Linked DNA regions of Homo sapiens. The protein of the gene in region 1 purifies or fractionates together with the protein of each later gene. This does not show direct contact. Each region holds a gene or a part of one and is shown on either strand. Other genes may lie near its edges.

Region 1 (3,500 bases):
GGAGGCTGAGGCAGAAGATCCACTTGAACCTGGGAGATGAAGTTTGCACTGAACAGAGATCACACCACTGCACTCCAGCCTGAGCAACAGAGCGAGACTCCACCTCAAAAAAAAAAAAAAAAAAATCTTACTTTATTAGAAAGTATAGGCCAGCCGTGGTGGCTCACGCTTGTAATCCCAGCACTTTGGAAGGCTAAGGTGGGTGGATCACCTGAGGTCAGGAATTCGAGACCAGCCTGCCAACATGGTGAAACCCCATCTCTACTAAAAATACAAAAATTACCTGGGTGTAGTGGCGCATGCCTGTAGTCCCAGCTACTCAGGAGGCTGAGGCAAGAGAATCGCTTGAACCTGGGAGGTGGAGGTTGCAGTGAGCTGAGATCATGCCACTGCACTCCAGACTGGGCAACAGAGCAAGACTCTCTTTCCAGAAAAAAAAAAGAAAAAAAAGGGAAGAGTAAATAATATAACAAGCATGTCATACCCACAACCCAGTGGAGGTAACAAAATATCACAGGCCGGGCGCAGTGGCTCATACCTGTAATCCCAGCACTTTGGGAGGCCAAGGTGGGTGGATCATTTGAGCCCTGGGGTTTGAGACCACCCTGGGCAACATGGTGAAACCTCATCTTTACTAAAGATACAAAAGTCAGCCGGGCCTGGTGGCGTGTGCCTGTAGTCCCAGCTACTCAGGAGGCTGAGGTGGGAGGATCACCTGAGCCCAGGGAGTCTGAGGCTACAGTGAGCCAAGACTGCCCCACTGCATTTCATCCTAGGCAACAAAGCAATACCCCACCTCAAAAAATAAAGTAAAATAAAATAAAACATCATAAACACCGGTGAGTCTTGCCCTCCTCAGCTAACCACAACCCTGACTTTAACATTTATCATTCCTACAAGCTTCTACTTACTATGTATTTCCGTGTCCCTAAATAATACATAATGCCATCTCACAGGTTTTAAAACTTTACACAGATGGTCTCTGAGGCCCTACAGCCACTGGCAAGCTGCCTTCCATCCCTGCTGTCTGTACCTGCAACGCCTGGAGCATCCCTTGAGTTCAGCTCTCATTCTTTCCTTCCGACTGCCCTGCAGCAGCCTCTGACCACCACGGCTCACTGAGCCATTCTCTTGTTGGAGGAAGGCAGTGTCTTGCTACCATGGACAGGACTCTTGTGCACCCCTTTGTACCTATCGCCTGCTAGGCTTGTGTGGGTTTTTCTCAGGTGTACACATAGGAGGGCAATTGCCAGTAGAAGGCATTGTCTTCATTAATGTTTCCACCATCTCAGAAAACCAAGGTTTGCCCCTGTATACAGTATGTAAAATTGTAACTTTCACACTCACTGCCTCATCAACAATCTTATCATAAAAACACAAGATGTTTCCTGTATTTTTATGTGACCTGTATTTCTAACTTGTTAGCATGTTGAAGAAGTTGTCTTCTCTCCACACAAGGCACAGAATCTTGAAGGTAACAAACAGCTAAAAACCACATCTAGGTGGCCACTGTGCCCCTCAGAAACATGAATGGCGAGACATGTTCCTGTGAAGCTTTGATTACATGGGAGCAGCCTCAGCCACACCCACCCGAAGAGAGGAAAGGCCCAACAGAAGCTGTGCGGGGCAGGGCACCTACCCTGAACGTAATGAAAATTTCCCTTTTTCCCACAGGCATCCTCACGGTCTGGCCATCCTCGACTCCTACAAGGGACATTAGAAAGGGAGAAGTTAGGCAGGACGCGGTGGCTCACGCCTGTAATCCCAGCACTTTGGGAGGCCGAGGCGGGCAGATCATGACGTCAAGAGATCGAGACCATCCTGGCCAACATGGTGAAACCTGGTCTCTACTAAAAATTAACTGGGCGTGGTGGCACACGCCTGTAGTCCCAGCTACTCAGGAGGCTGAGGAAAGAGAATCGCTTGAACCCAGGAGGCGGAGGTTGCAGTGAGCCGAGATCACTCCACTACACGCCAGCCTGGCAACAGAGCGAGACTCCGTCTTAAAAAAAAAAAAAAAAAGAAAAGAAAAAGAAAAAAAAGAAAGGGAGCAGTTATTGTGAGACCTCCCACAGCACTTTCCACCCAAGATCCACTTGTAACCCACAGCTTCTTCCCCACTCCTGTTTCTTATTAACGAGGAACAATGTCATTATCTAAGAGGCACATGGGTAACCTTCCAGAGATGCAACACAGACACCTGATGACTGAGCACCTGCCTCAGGCTTGGTCTAGGCAGTACCTCAGGGAGTTCATGGTCTCACTGGGGTGATGGGTGTTAACCAAACGATAGCACTAATGCATAACTACAAACAGAGACATGCTCTTCAATGGAAATGCTCACAACTCTAGAGAAACAGACATCTAAACAACAGTAAAGCAGGCCACGCGCGGTGGCTCATGACTATAATCTCAGCACTTTGGGAAGCCGAGGCGGGTGGATCACGAGGTCAGGAGATCGAGACCATCCTGGCTAACACGATGAAACCCCGTCTCTACTAAAAATACAAAAAATTAGCTGGGTGTGGTGGCAGGTGCCTGTAGTCCCAGCTCCTTGGGAGGCTGAGGCAGGAGAATGGCATGAGCCTGGGAGGCAGAGCTTGCAGTGGGCCGAGATCGGGCCACTGCGCTCCAGCCTGGGTGACAGAGCGAGACTCCGTCTCAAAAAAGAAAAAAAAAAGAACAGGGAGGAGGGTGTGAGGCTAGCTAGGGAAGGGATACTCAAGCTGGGATCTCCAAGATGAATAAAGTTAACCGAAAAAAGAAAGCAGAAAGTGAGTTTTGGGCAAGGGAACAGTAGACATGGAGTGAGGGGTGGGATCCGTGGGGCTGATGTAGATAGGGTGGCAGCAGGGACAATGATGGCTTCGGTGACTAAGACAGGGGAGAGAGGAGAGGAGCCCGGGGGTTGGAAGCTGCTCCCTCACCAGGAAGAAGCAGAGTAGGCACGTCAGGTCTCTTCTCCCCATTGTGACATGCAAAGTGTAAATTTTAAGGATAACTGGCAGAAACAGAAAGATTCAAGGAGACTCCAGTTCCTCCTCCAGCCTGGGGCTCCAGGGCCTCAACCATAACTTCTACCAAGAGCCCACTCACACTCAGTGCAGTGGCCTCGGCCCTGTCCACCCTCTCCACACGGTGTGGTAGCCTCAACCCTGTCTGCCCTCTCCAAGCTCCTGGACATGGCGGGCCCAAGCACCCACCTGCAGGCACAGGGATCATCACTCGCTTTTTCTGCTTGGCTTGTCCTGCTCCCCTGCAGACCACACAGGGCGATATGATGATGGAGCCGCGGCCACCACATCTCCTACACGTGGAACGCATCACAAAAGGGCCTGTGTTGATGGTTTCCTGATAAAAACAAGAAAAATGGTAACCTAAGTACGCAGGTAAACTGATGGGTGGTTCTGGGACCACAATGTGCGTAAGAAAAATGTCTCTTTAAGGCTTGTTTTTTATGTGCATGTGCACTCAAACACACTGCCTAGGAACCCAGGTGC
Region 2 (3,500 bases), on another chromosome or scaffold:
CGGGAGGATCACGAGGTCAGGAGATCGAGACCATCCTGGCTAACACGGTGAAACCCCGTCTCTGCTAAAAACACAAAAAATTAGCCAGGTGTGGTGGCGGGAGCCTGTAGTCCCAGCTACTTGGGAGGCTGAGGCGGGAGAATGGCGTGAACCTGGGAGGTGGAGCTTGCAGTGAGCCGAGATGGGGCCATTGCACTCCAGCCTGGGTGATAGAGCGAGATTTCTTCTCAAAAAAAAAAAAAAAAAAAGCTGTTTTTCACACAAAGCTTACAGAGAAAAAGAAACTGAACAGAGGGCTGCAGCCTGGCCCAGGCAGACGGCTGTGCCCACCCCACCACCCCATTGTGGCCAGAGGCTTAGTGACACTCACGGTGGCTCGCTTCCGAAGGAAGGCGTCCGCTTCATCCACAAAGAGCAGGAGGCTGTGAACGAGAGGGAGGCCAAGCAGGGCGAGAGTGACACCAGGAGCAGCCCACAGCAGCGTCCGGCCGCGGCAGGAGCAGGCCAAGCAGGCAGATCCCCACGGGGTCAGGCTCTGCCCCATCAGCAGCCCTAAGTCCTGGACTCGACAGAAGCCGATCAGCCTGGCCTCTGGGCAGCTGACCACGGCCCAGCCTCAGAAGGCCGTGGGAAACCAACCACACACGGGGGCGACGAACTCCGCCCCACAGGCTTCACCCCCACCCGGCCCAGTGCAGCACTGGTGGCCGCTTAGAGTCCACGACAGGGACAGGTCTTCTAAAGTGAAAGGTCAAAGGCCAGAGGGGAGGGTGCCAACCATGAGCATCGTGGTTCCAACGAGGACAGCCGAGGCCACAAGGGTGCCCGGGCTGTGCCCTGCGCGGGGTCACTGTGGGACCTATTGAAGGGAGTGTGCCATGCTGTCTTCAGCTAACTTTCAAATGGTTCTAGAAAAGGCAACCAGTGCCCACGCCCACCTGCAGGCGTGTTGGGGGGAGGGCGGCTGTGGAGGAGCCTCCCCTGCAGCTGTGAAGACTCCTCTCCCCCTGCACCCACCCACCTCCCTTCTGCCCTGAGCCAAGTATCCCACTGGCAGCCTCCACACGCTGGGGGCCTCGTGTCCACCAGGGTCCACACTCAGGGGACTTTCCCTCCGAGGGACCCTCCACTGGGCCTCCTGCGTGGCCACAAGGACAGAGCTGCAGAAAGACAGGGTCCCCAAGAGACACCTGGACCCCCTTCCCAGAAGGCAGCCTGCTGGGCCGCAGCCAAGGGCCTGGTGCATGCTGTGGGGACGTCTCACCCGCGCCGGCTGGTATTGGCCCAGTCAAAGAGCTTGTGCATGGCGGTCACGCCTTCCCGCCCCATGGGGGCCACGTCCCCGCCTGTCATGATGGCGTAGTCCATGCCTGAGTGCAGGGCGAGTTTCTGGACAGGAAGAGTGAGGGGAGACAGAGCAGATGTTCCCTCCGCCTCTGCAAAGCCTGCACACTCCACCCGGAGTGTGGAGGCTCTGCCCAGCGTCCCTGCCTGGAAGCCACAGCCTGCCAGACAGGAGACGTCCCCCGCCTGGAAGATGGGAGGCGCTGCTGCCCACACCAGCACCCTGAGCCTACACGAGGGTGGGCAAAGGCCTAAGGGGGGTCCATTCCCCAGGCAGCTGAGCCCCCCAGACACCTGCAGGCAGGTGAGACCCCAGCGGCCCCTGGCCCACCTGTTCAGCCAGGCGCTCTCACCTTGGCAAACAGCGTCTTCCCGGTGCCTGGTGGCCCGTACATCAGGATGTTCCTGTACAGGCTGCGGTTCTTCTTGGTGTTCCTTGTTGCTATGGCGATGTCGCGCACCCGTGCTTCCAGGCTGGGCTGCCGGGGAAGACGGGGGTTTGGAGGAGACACTGTGCACCCATGGAAGCCTCAGGGGAAGGGGCTGCGGGAATGCCTGGGTGCAGACTCGGCTCCTCGGGAAGCCTCCCACCTCAGGGGCAGCCTATCTATCCCCAGCACGGTCCAAGCAGTCGCATCTCAGGACCCAAAAGCTCCTGGGTGCCACCACGAGCGCCAGCAAGGGCCACAGCCCGGCCCAGCTCCAGGGTCCCCTCCCTGCGCCTCCCCGGTCCCAGGCACACCGACTTACACTGAGCACAACACCCTCCAGCGCGTCCTGGGGTCGACTGAGGAGCCGCCGGCTGACCTGCCGGAGGGGAAGGGGAAGCGCCATCGGGTCACCTGCCACAGCCACGGAACAGCCACCAACGCGCACACACACGCTCGGTAACACGCAGAAACGGAGCTGCCCCAAAGCACAGCCAGGACCGGCCCGGAGCTGGAACCCTGCCCCGCCCGGAGACCAGGCGGCTATTGCTGGGATTAGGGGCATTTTCCGGTTCCTTATTGGCTTTTATTTTCTTAACCACCTACCCAGTGACCTGTGGAGAGCAGGCACCTCGGGGGCGGCGAGCGGCGCGGCTCCCCAGGGAGGCCACCAGACGCCGTGGCCTGTAGCAGCTTCCCTGATAGACGGCCGCACACCCAAGTCCCGGGTCTTGCAAGGACCCCGATGTGCTCCCAGGCCCCATCAAGAGCCCTGAGCAGGGGACACCGAGGCAGACAGGGGAAGGGTCTCACTGATGCAGACCCCTAAGGTACAGCGCCAGACAGGAAAACCCACCCGTGAAGCAGTGTGCGGGTGCCCGTTATCCGGGGAAAGGGAAGGGACGGGAGGGTGTGCGTGGGCTGTGCTCGTGGGGCAGAAGGGACTCAGCCAGGAACTGCACTCAGGGAGGGCCAGGCCTGCGCTGCTACCTGGATGGGGTGCCGCAGCGCCTCAAGCACCGTGATGCGGGACGTCTCCCTCACTAGGGACGGCTTCCCCAGCCGAGCCTCGATGAAGCGGCCGGCGACAAGCGTGGCATTCTTGGCTGAGTAGACCCCAACAGCCAGCAGCGTCAGCCCAGCCACCTGCAGCAGAGACACCGCACTGGCGCACCGGCCCCCACCGTCCCTCCCTCTTAGAGCAGGAGACGCACGGGGCTGCCCCCACCCTCTCTCCGCCCGAGGGAGAAGCACAGGGCCGTGCACTGGCCCCACAGGAACGCGAATTCCCGGCCCCGAATCCCACAGCCACGCGGTTACAGGAGGCAGGTGGGGCAGTCACAGCGCCCTCACTCAGGGCCATTTTCTCTGCAACTGGCAGCATAAATCCTAGAAAGCCTCGGTCGCTGAGCGGGGCCCTGGACAGACCCAGCCGGATGTCACAGGGCCACACCCTCTGGTACATTCTTGGCCACTAAAAATGGTACTTTATTCCTGGAAAACAAGACTAACCCAAAATCTCTAACTCGTTTTAAAAATCAATTAGGCTGGCTGGGCACAGTAGCTCAGGTCTGTAATCCCAGCACTTTGGGAGGCTGAGGCAGGTGGATCACCTGAGGTCAAGAGTTCAAGACCAGCCTAACCCACATGGAGAAACCCCGTCTCTACTAAAAATACAAAAAATTAGCTGGCCATGGTGGCACATGCCTGTAATCCCATCTACTTGGG

The links. Proteins that work in one complex are often made in the same cells at the same time.
Region 2: the proteins of DNAJA3 (region 1) and ATAD3A purify together in Homo sapiens (tandem affinity purification; one large-scale study listed by IntAct). This does not show direct contact.

The regions. Positions count from the first base shown.
Region 1 is NC_000016.10:4,442,868-4,446,367, reverse strand, and holds part of DNAJA3 (dnaJ homolog subfamily A member 3, mitochondrial), read right to left. Parts: intron 3,352-3,500; coding exon 3,204-3,351; intron 1,705-3,203; coding exon 1,640-1,704; intron 1-1,639. UniProt on the Homo sapiens protein: Modulates apoptotic signal transduction or effector structures within the mitochondrial matrix. Affect cytochrome C release from the mitochondria and caspase 3 activation, but not caspase 8 activation.
Region 2 is NC_000001.11:1,522,162-1,525,661, reverse strand, and holds part of ATAD3A (ATPase family AAA domain-containing protein 3A), read right to left. Parts: intron 2,919-3,500; coding exon 2,763-2,918; intron 2,152-2,762; coding exon 2,095-2,151; intron 1,824-2,094; coding exon 1,698-1,823; intron 1,390-1,697; coding exon 1,265-1,389; intron 423-1,264; coding exon 371-422; intron 1-370. UniProt on the Homo sapiens protein: Essential for mitochondrial network organization, mitochondrial metabolism and cell growth at organism and cellular level. May play an important role in mitochondrial protein synthesis. May also participate in mitochondrial DNA replication.